Linked DNA regions of Homo sapiens: region 2 is linked to region 1. The links come from fine-mapping of genetic effects on gene expression. A gene starts in region 1. The other region holds a variant in brackets. All regions are shown on one strand. Distances are from middle to middle. Region 1 holds the start of ZNF536 (zinc finger protein 536). Region 2 overlaps ZNF536 (zinc finger protein 536).

Region 1 (5,382 bases):
GCAGGAGGGAAAGAAAAAAAAACAACACTCAGTTTGTTGTGTTTTCCTTGGGTTTGTTTTCTTGCCAAAAAATTACCCCCTTTGTCTTTGCGCAAAAGAGGCAATCCGGGCACCTTCTGGTGGGCACCGAGGCGGTGCCAAGGCGCCTTTCTTCAGGGCGGTTTCTATTCCTTTTCTAGCCTCACCAGATATATTTTTAACATTAAAAAAAAACACTATATTTAATTGGTTATGGATCTCTGTTCTCTTAGCACTACTGGATATCACAGAAAAACACATTAGTACAGAGCAATTAGTGCAATGGCAGTAAACAACTAAGGCACTATTAAGCTGTGGGTGATTAAATAGTATTACTTTATATTTTTTACGGTGCTAGACTAAAAGATGGAGATTTAAGATATATATATTTCCATTAATATTAATATAAAATATAAATAACAGGTGTCTTCCACTTCTTCTTAAGGTGCAATTTATACCCAGCACTTCAACCTATAGAGAACTACTTTTCTTATTGAAAAAAAAACTCTTTCTTTATACACTCCAGGGCAATATTTCTTATCTTCATGCACCCGGATATTTAAGCAGAAATATTATTTAATTGGAGTTACGGACTCAGGCGAAATAATGCCCATACCTATATCACCATTAAAAAATAATAATAATAAAGCTTCCATCCCATTGAAATACGCTCTATCGTTTCTATCTTTGCAAAGAGCGAATCGGGCATTATGTGGTGAATTGACTGCAGGCCCGGAAAACAGGCGGGCGGCGGGTGGGCTGCGGCCCTGGGGCTGGGGCCGGGCCGCGTGCACCTTGCTGAGGCCCACCTTGGCCCCGGCTCCCACTGCAGCTCAGGCCGCTCCTCCTCCGTGTGTGTAGATCATCCTGGAATTCTGGCACATCTTTCCTCGGCATCTGATTAAGTTAACAATGTGCTGCTATTTGCATGCAGATTTGCCGGGGCTTTCTCTCCAGCTGCTCCCAGAGACTTGGTCTTTCTCTGCGTTGTGATAGCACAGCAGTCCCTAAATGCAATCTTTGTCAGACCCAGGTGTGCTCTCATTGAGGACGCCTTCGTTCCAAGCAATTTTTCTTTCTGTAGCATTTATAAGGCTCTATTATAGTATAGCCACATCTGGAGGAAAATTCTCCTATTAATTATATACTTTTACCACTAGGAAGACACATTCTAAAAGATACCAACATTTTTGTTGTTGTTGTTCTTATTTCTTTGACAGGCTGCATTTTATTTTATTTTGTTTTGTTTTTCCAGGCATTTCAATATTTAAAGAGCCATTAACCAAGGGGTGGGGGGTGTGAATTTCTAGGAAAAAAAAAAGAACAACAGAACTAAAATCTCAGTGTCAGCCCTGCCTTACCTCACAGGGACAAGTCAGGGGAAAGGTGCCAACTGAGAACTCTCAGAAGACCTCCAGGCTGGACAAGGGATTCAGGATGAGGGCCTGGCCAGTGGGGAAGAGTTCCGTTCTACTGGAGTTTAAAAAAAGGTCGGGGGGAAGAAAAGCACAAGTGCTATTAACTTTTAACCTAGTCTTCTCCCAGGTGGACATTCAAGCATGTCACCAAATCGCCAGACAATTTGATTTCTCTAACGTCAAAAAGCAGAACCCAATTGGATCAGCATGGTGATCCCGATGCGGAGTTTTCTTTGTGTGGTATGGTAATTTTTCAATTAGGTTGGAGACAGATTAAAAGCAAAATTTGGAGCTCAGAATTCATGCTCATCTTTCAGAAAGAGACAAGAATCTTTGCCCAGGGAGTCTGAAAGTTACTTTAGAAGCAGGTGGGTTGTTTTGTTTGGTTGGTTGGTGTTTTTGCTTTGTTTTCAAATCTTTTGGTACAGTCAGATTAGATGGGGGGGGCGGGTGATGGAGAGAATTAATGTAGGAATTATAGGAAAAGTTTTAACCATCGGATGGTCCCTTTCTAAATTATAATAAATTTAAAGGGCTATAATTTTTTATTCAAAAATTATTTTGCAAAAGGGTGTGTACTTCGTGAACAAGAATCCATGCATGAGTATGTGCGTGTCTGCATGTGGGTGGGTGCATGTGTGGGTGTTCTATGCTGGGGAGACTGCACGCACACACACTTGCACACACTCACACACTCACACACAAAGAAAGCTGAATTACCTTGAGAACAGGGAAAATGGAAATGGAACCATTTTCACTTTTCAAGACAAACTTCATCAGGTAAAAATCCAAGCAAGGTTTTGGTCACTTGAGTCCAGATCCTATGATGACAACGTGGAAACTCTCTTCTCCAGACTCACCTCCCCTGTTCCAAAGCTGGCCTCAGCAAAATCCCAGGGCCGTGTCCCGGCAGTACCAGGGGCGGCTCCCAGCAGGCCACGTGTGAGCAGCAAAATCACACAAGAGAGGCCTTTCTGAGTCCTGCCTCTGAAGGCTGGAGTCACTGCTCCCAGCTACTAACTGCCTCTGCTCACTGGTGCTAACCCCTTTCCCTCAAAATGACCAATTGTTTTCACTCTCTCTGTACAGAGGCCAGAAAGGCCCTGCAATTAGGGCCCATCTTTGGACCATGCCTCAGCCTCAGTTTTGTCAGCTCTGAAATGGGAAGAGCCAATCCCATCCTAAGTACATGCATGAAAGACTGTCAACCCAGTTCTAAATAGAAATGATAAATAAGGGTAAATTTTACTCTGATTCTTTTTTCTTAGGTCTCATTTCCTCCAAGCCTTGGTGCTGAAATTAACTGCCCTTCTTTTACCTTACGAAAACAAGCAGCGGATTCTAGTTTCATGACACTTAAGGAAGAATCTATGCAAAAAGGTGGCAGATATTAAATGCATAGATTCTTCAATGTATATATATTCTCTCTTTATATATATACACACACACATATATATGCATATATATATATATATTCTCTATATATGCATTTAAACATATAATGCAAAAAGAAATAATTTATTTTCTAATTTGACTCTTTTGGGGCCGCTGCCTTTTCCATCTCCTGCTGGCTGGCAATGCCCCCTCCTTTCCCCTACAGATATCCAGATACCCTCCTGCAAAAATACAGCAGGGAGGCAGATGCAGTGATACTAGATTACATCACTGGATAGCATGTGGCATTGAGGGGAGAGAAAAAAAAAACAAAAAAAAAAAAACAAGAAAAGACAAATGACATTTTGCTGCTATGGTGTGCTATTTTAGTGGTGATGGCTTGACTTTTGGCCCAAACGCATATGCCAATGGCAAGGCTAACTCCAGGGACTCACAAAAAAGAATGTGTGTTCACAGCTGTACTGTACACCAATACAGATTACATGTTTTCAGTGTTGCGGCCACAACAGAATGCTAATTAACATACTGGAGTGATGAGAGCGGCTGCAAAGGCCTTATTGTTCCATTATTTCATGAAGCCCAGCTGCCTTTGTTTATGTCACTTATCCTCTCGTGCCACAGGTTTTTACTCCAAAAATACTATCCCAATACAGCGTTAATATTTAAAAAACAAAGAGGTGGCAGATTGTCATTTTTGTGTCAGTCTCAAACTGCAGAACTGTTAAGCTGTTCTGGTTCGGTATTTAGAAATAATTTAACAGCCATATTCAGACACTGCCTGCATTCTAACATAATGGCTGAATACTTGAACCAAGCAAATGCATAACTATCCTGACATCACTTATGAGATTTAGATTGGTCAGTTAATGGAAGTCTTTACCACAATCAATACCATAACAGCTTCTTGAAATGAACGTGATTTTTTACACGGAGTGCTGCAAACAATAACTACAGAAACATACTACCTTTGTACCCAGCACAAAGAAGCTAAAATGCAAAATTAAGAAGCAATTACGTTTTTGCAAACTAATATTACAGTTGATTATTAAAAACAAACACTTCCAAAAATACGTACTTATCATTTAATAATTGGAGGGCATTAATATCCCCCGTACCTGATTAATCATTTTTTTACACTTTTTAATAGCTGTTTCACCTACTGGCTACATTATCAGCTTGCTGTTAAGTATTGATATTGATGATTGATGTAATAATGATTAAATAAAAAGCCATATTTAGAGCTTGATTTTTATAACATTCTTTGTCATAATCTTCATTCAAGAGAACACTGTCTGCTGTTTAAATTAGTTTTTTTCCCCTCTGTTTTGCCTGGATTGTGCATAAAAGTGACATTCTATAAAATACAGGTTTCCTCAAATAGTGTTCCGCCAGCAATCCATACATTCTACAGTAATTTGCAATCATGGTCAGGGGAGGTTGTTGGCTCAAGTTCAAAATGTTTATGGCGCATTGGTTCCCCAAAGAACAAAAACACCCTGGGGTTTTAGTTCAAATTTCCCTAAATGCACCTTTATTGACATCAGGTACAATAGTTGGGGAAATACGTAATACCCCAGCACAGACGCCATTCAACCAGAGTCATAAATTAAGTTAGAAAAGGTCTCCCCTAAAAAGTATAGCACTCCACTAATCAAAGCCACGCTGTCGCCATTGCTACAGAACACAGAAATCTTCCCAACAGCCAATTGAGTGAACAAGCCATAGTTGCTTTTTAACGAGTTTAACTGGTAATCTCAGATAAATGGAGAACTGTTTGAAGTGTCTGCCTTCTCTAAGGCAGTAATGAGAGGATTTACAGCATTCTGCATCCCAAACTGCGTATAACCAAGAGAATGCCACAGGTGTGTCACCATCCACGTTAGAGTGCTTTCTCAGCGATGGCCATCCCCCCACTGTGGACACAACATATATTTTTTTTAATTGGATCCAGGAGCTAGCTAAATTATCCAACTGCTCTGTGCTTAAACCCCCAGCTAGCTTATGTACCAATAATAATAAACTTTCCATAATAACAGCCCAGCCTATTACTGTTTTTTTTTCTCTTAATCTAAAAGTGGAAACACTTTATTCTGATTGCAGCCACTGAAGAAACTCCTGAGTTGGTTTCCTTCTAAAAAAAAATTGCTCAAGAATTACAGAACAGACCCAGGTTAACAATATTCAATTATGCACACATGTATTTTCAGAGGAGAACCTGCTTATCTTATGGTACAGGGAGAAAATAATGTCATAATTCATCCCTTTGCAATTTGTGGAAGAATTTTGTCTTTTCCTTTACAATTTTTATTTGCCAGGTCAAAGCAACAGCCAGTCAAAAACCACACCCCGGGACAGTGACAGCAACATCTAGACTGCACAATCGCAGACGGGTCGGACTCAATTGACACAGCTTCAGTGTGATCCTCCACATTTAATGCATTCATGTTTCATTTGCAAAAAGAAAATCCGAGCCCTGTGCTACCATTCTGGTTTTCAGAAAAGTGTTACATTTATAAATAAGAGATCAAAATCCTTGAGTGGGCAGAAATAG
Region 2 (5,382 bases), 110 kb before region 1:
CTGGATATCTACCCAAAGGAAAAGACGTCATTACATGAAAAAGACACACAATACACACACACACACACATTCACACACATTTATAGCAGCACAATTTGCAATTGCAAAGATATGGAATCAACCTAAGTACCCACTGATCAACGAAAGTATAAAGGTAATGTGGTACATATACACCATGGAATACTACTCAGTCATCAAAAGGAACAAATGTCTTTTGCAACAACTTGGATGAAGTTGGAGGCCATTATTCTATGGGAAGTAACTCAGGAATGGAAAACCAAATATCGTATATTGTCACTTATCAGTGGGAGCTAAGTTATGAGGAGGCAAAGGTGTAAGAATGATACGATGGACTTTGGGGAGGTGGTGAGGGCGGGAGGGGTGAGGGATAAAAGACTACATATTGGATACAGTGTACACTGCTGGGGTGATGGGTGCACCACAATTTCAGAAATCACCACTAAACAACTTACCCATGTTACCAAAAGCCACCCGTTCCCCAAAAACTATAGAAATAAAAAATGAAAATAAATCAATCAACAAAATTTTTAAAAAGAACTCAATTCTAAAAAGTTGTTACAAGGATTAAATCCATTTAATAAGTTAGCACACTGCCTGGCATTTTTTAAAAACTCAATAAATGTTTGTAATTCATCACGAACCAATGTGTATCCTAAATTTTAACATACCAGGGTTCAAAATACTTGCAGAAAAGAGAGGTAGGATTCCAGGACACGAGAGGCTGGTCAAGCAAATGACCCAGAAAAAGATGAGGATGCTCTCAAACGTGTCATAATGCCGACTGTGCAACCAGAGAGATCCCAGTGACAGGGAAGAAGCCTGGGTCCAGAAAAACCAGTGTGACTCCCCCAGAGAGATGAGATTTGAAAAGACGATAGTGGGCATCTAGCATACTCATGCGCATGTATGTACATACAAGTACATGTATACACACACATGCACATATGCATAGATGTGTTAAGTGAATAGATTAATTGATTGATGATTTGAATAAAACATGGAAACAAGAAGGAACATGTTCTTAGGGAACCTCAGACATAAGTGACTGGGACTTGAAATGATCTTATCTTTAATGAAAGCCAAGGAAAGAAAAAATATAGTATTAAGGGCAGCTAAAAAGCCCCCCAACCCACCCTTTTTTTTTTTTTTTTGAGACAGGGTCTAACTCTGTTGCCCAGGCTGGAGTCCAGTGACATGAACTCGGCTCACTGCAGCCTCCGCCTCCCGGGCGACTCTCCTGCCTCAGCCTCCCAAGTATCTGGAATTACAGCCGCATCCACCATGCCCAGCTAATTTTTGTAGTTTTGGTAGAGATGGTGTTTCGCCATGTTGGCCAGGCTGGTCTTGAACTTCTGACCTTAGGTGATCTGCCTGCCTCGGCCTCCCAAAGTGGTGGGATTACAGGCATGAGCCACTGTGCCCAGGCTAAAAAGCCATTTATTATTTATTTATTTATTTATTTTTATTTTACTTTAAGTTCTGGGATACATGTGCAGAACGTGCAGGTTTGTTACATAGGTATACATGTGCCATGGTGGTTTGCTGCACCTATCAATCCGTCATCTAGGTTTTAAGCCCTGCATGCATTAGGTATTTGTCCTAACGCTCTCCCTCCCCTTGCCCCCTACCCCACGACAGGCCCCGGTGTGTGATGTTCCCCTCCCTGTGTCCATGTGTTCTCATTGTTCAACTCCCACTTATGAGTGAGAACATCCGGTGTTTGGTTTTCTGTTCCTGTATTAGTTTGCTGAGAATGATGGTAAAAAACCCTTTTTAAAAGTTCAATTCAGAGCAAAACAAACAGACTGAGAAAGGAACTATAGTTTGGTGCAGGAAGCAATGACATCACGTTGGGGAAGGAGAAGAGGAGAAGGGATTGTTCTGTCTGCCCTGCAAGGAGAGGTCCCGGGGAAGGAAGAGAGACCTGTTGACCCACGGGAGCCTGAGATGGATGACAAAGACTGTCAGGAAGAACATGTCTGCTCCAGCAGAATCCTCATCTCCACACTCCCGTGAAATTGGCACCATGGAACCGGGAGAGCTTGGGAAAGCAGTGCTGAAACCTGCTGCTGTGATATCTGAGGAACTGTGGAGAAAGGGAAAGCTAATTGTCATGGACAATCGATCCTGAGACTGACTTCAGCATGGGTCTTACTTTTTCACAAAAGTTGAGGCAAGCCTAGAAGGGGGAACAGCAATCCCCAGAGCCCAGCGCGGGCTCCCTTGGAACCAGCCCTGAAGGCTGGGGACCGAGACCTGCATTAGACATCAGGTGTCTGCATCTCAGCAGGGCATTTTGATTTCCACGGAGATAAAAAAGAGAAATGTGAAACTGAAGCAAGGCAAAGAAGTGGATCAGTGGCTGGTTAACCAGCCATACCCAAAGGGTACAGAAACAAGTGCTGAGGTCACAAGGAAGGGAGGGACTCTCACCCTGGGATGTGGCAGGGCACATGTCCCGAGGCTGCCTCGTGGACTGCTTTTTATCAGTGACAGGGACAAAAACCCAACAGGCATGAATGGAACAAGCGCAGGTGGCCAGTGCTGGGGAAGTGGGGTGTGCGTGAGGGCCCCTGAATGAAGGAATCCCTCACAGCACCCTGACCCACCAGGCCAAGGGGAAAATGAGTGATGCAATTAAACAAACAGTTGTTGACCTTTTCCACATCTGGTCTGTAGTCGAAACAGCAGCCAACTAGCAATTCCTGTCTCCTTCCACGACCTAGGGT[C/G]GTTGCTGGAAGCAGTTTCCCAACCGCAGATATTTTCCAGGCTTATCTGATTTAGCTGGGGCCACGTGACTGACTTTCAGCCGGTGGAATTTGGACAAAATGAAGGCTGCTACTTCTTAGAAGAGTCTCTTGCTCCATTCTCATGGTGCTCTCTTTTCCTGACAGCTGGATCTCAATGTCCTGGGTGACCCAGGAAACTGTATACTGAAAATGATGAGGCTTCCACTGGCCTGGTCCCTAAATAAAAGCTGCTTGTGCCCAACACCGATTGAGCTCCGGATGAGAGAGAGAAAAGTAAACTGTGGTGTCTTGATACTGAGATGTTAGGGTGTATTTATAAGAGCGGTCAGTGTTGTCCTAACTGATATGGGATACACAATCCCAGAGTGGCAATGCAGGACTGGGGAGAGGGCAGGGCTTCACCAGGCCTCTGAGAAAGGACTTGAGGGATTGGACAGTGATGAGTAACTCAGTGGGAACCAGAGAATCCGTGGTCCCCAGACAGGCAAAAATGGCCTCGGAAGGATGAGTTTCCAAAAGGAGAGGGAGCCCCTCTGAGCCTACACAGATGATGCATCGTTGGTCAACCCAGCAGGTCCTGTGCACTAAGTGCATTGGTTCAGATGGGCACAGAATAAGAAAAGCAGACAAGGCTCAAGACTCGAAGCTATACCACATTTTGTCCCTTGGCCTTGGGAGAATCCAGTTCGACTTACAGGACCCCAAGGAATCCTGGGACCATGCACATTTCAGGGCAATATTAAAAAGAGAGAGAGCATTTACTGAGTGCCTGCTATGTGCTCTGCTGTTGTTTAGAAGGAAGATAATCATCATTTAATTCTCACAATAGTCATCTAAGGTAAGTACTATTATTCCCCGGTATACACATAAGGGATCAGACTTGGCTGGGGATCCAGCAGTTTATGTGTACAGAGCTGAGACTCAGACCATGCCTGACTGAGCCCAAAACCCATGAGCTTCACTAGGATCCCCCCATCTGAAAGGCTTTCTAAGATCAGAGCTCCTCAGGCTCTGAATGGGCCCCCTCAAGAGACAGCAGGAAGCCCCCTACCCCGGACTTATACAAATAGAAGCTGGCGGAGCCCCACAGCATTCCTCAACCCCGCGTGGGGCAGAGTTAGATCGTAAGACCCTCCCAACCTTGAAACCTCTGCCTAAGAGCATACAGGAAGTTTAGATTAAATCAGCCAAAATGACTTCATAGCATATATTTCTTAATATCTGGTTCTCAGGGTCAAACATAAAACTTTATCCTGGAAAAAAAAAAAAAAAAACACCAAGGATTATCCATGAACCATCTTTCTTAAATGTGAGCCATCAGCAGCCTGACCCACACATGCTGATCTCTGTTCCCGAGCTCCTTCAAGGACGCCGAGGTCTGCAGAGTGGTGGAGCTAAGGGGTTGGGCAATGGAGGATCCCACCCCGTCCTCAATCATCAGAAGCTGCAAGGTGCTTTTCTAAAAAGAAAAAGGAAAAAAGGACTATTTTTCTTCAGTGCTAGAGAAAGCAGACAGATTTTTATTTCTGTAGAGTAAGAAAACTCTCTTCCCTCACCGAGGTCACTTATAACAATAGAGGATCCCCTGAGATGAAGGAAAGAATCAGGTTTTCTTTTTATTCTAGAAGGTGATAACTACCAAGAAATCTCCACTTCACTTAAGTCCTTTTATTCTTCTGATAAGCTCAAGAGTTTGCCATCATTGTGCCCAGCCACTGCTGTCTTCAGCAAAGCACAGTGGAGGAGATTTCAGTTTCCAGAGGGGACAGACACAGCCCCTGTCAGTGAGAACCCCCTGACCCAACAACACTCCAAACAAATTACTGGGTTGTCTAAAAAGTAGAAGGAACCAACCACTGCTGGAATACTCTGCTTTCTTCACGCCACAAAGCAGAAATTTCTGCTTAAAGGGAGATTCATTTGAAAGAAACCTCAAGCATATTTTTTTCATGTCTTGGGAGGTTGCTGTTTCATAAAATGCATGCATGTCATACGACTCCGCAGAAATTCATTCAACACACTGGGTCCATCAGTACTTACTGCTGTGTATGAATATCATGAAGAATGTATATCATTCCTGTATCATGAGCTACTCTAGGCCCTGGGCTACCTAACTGGACAAAACAGACACCATTCCTGCCCTCATAGAACCTGCATTCTAGTGGGGAGATGGAGAACGTGTCAGTACAATGGAAATAAAAGAATACCAAATAGTTAAATACATAAGGGTGATGTCATGATTCGGGACAGACAGAATAAGGGCACAACCAAGATGAGCTTTGACATTGGATGGGTGGTCAGGGAAAAGTAAAGACAAGTGGACCTTAACAAAGAAAATATAGGCTAGTTACCATGGCTCATGCCTGTAATCCCAGTAGTTTGGGAGGCCAAGGCAGAAGGATCATTTGAGGCCAGGAGTTTCAGTACAGCCTGGACAACATAGCAAGACCCCATCTCTATTAAAAAAAAAAACCCAGCAAGTATAGGAAGTGCAAAGGCCCCAAGGCAGGACCACACTGGAGCATTCTGAGGAGTGACAGAAAGAGCAGGAGAGTAGTGGGTGCCACAGAGCCACAGGCCCTGGAGTCCAAGAGGCAGGCAGGCCCAGTGA

What was found.
Region 2: its variant is fine-mapped to the expression of ZNF536 in lung (TOPMed, PIP 0.97).

What each region holds. Positions count from the first base shown.
Region 1 is chr19:30,369,331-30,374,712 of GRCh38, reverse strand. ZNF536 (zinc finger protein 536) reads right to left here and starts at 2,329. Exons shown (of 5, transcript NM_014717.3): 1 at 2,157-2,329. RefSeq lists an enhancer at 784-1,285.
Region 2 is chr19:30,476,819-30,482,200 of GRCh38, reverse strand. The region is part of intron 2 of ZNF536 (zinc finger protein 536); the gene reads right to left. Among named protein-coding and RNA genes, the nearest start is that of ZNF536, 110 kb to the right of the region's middle. The variant C/G (reference allele first, on the strand shown) is at 2,751.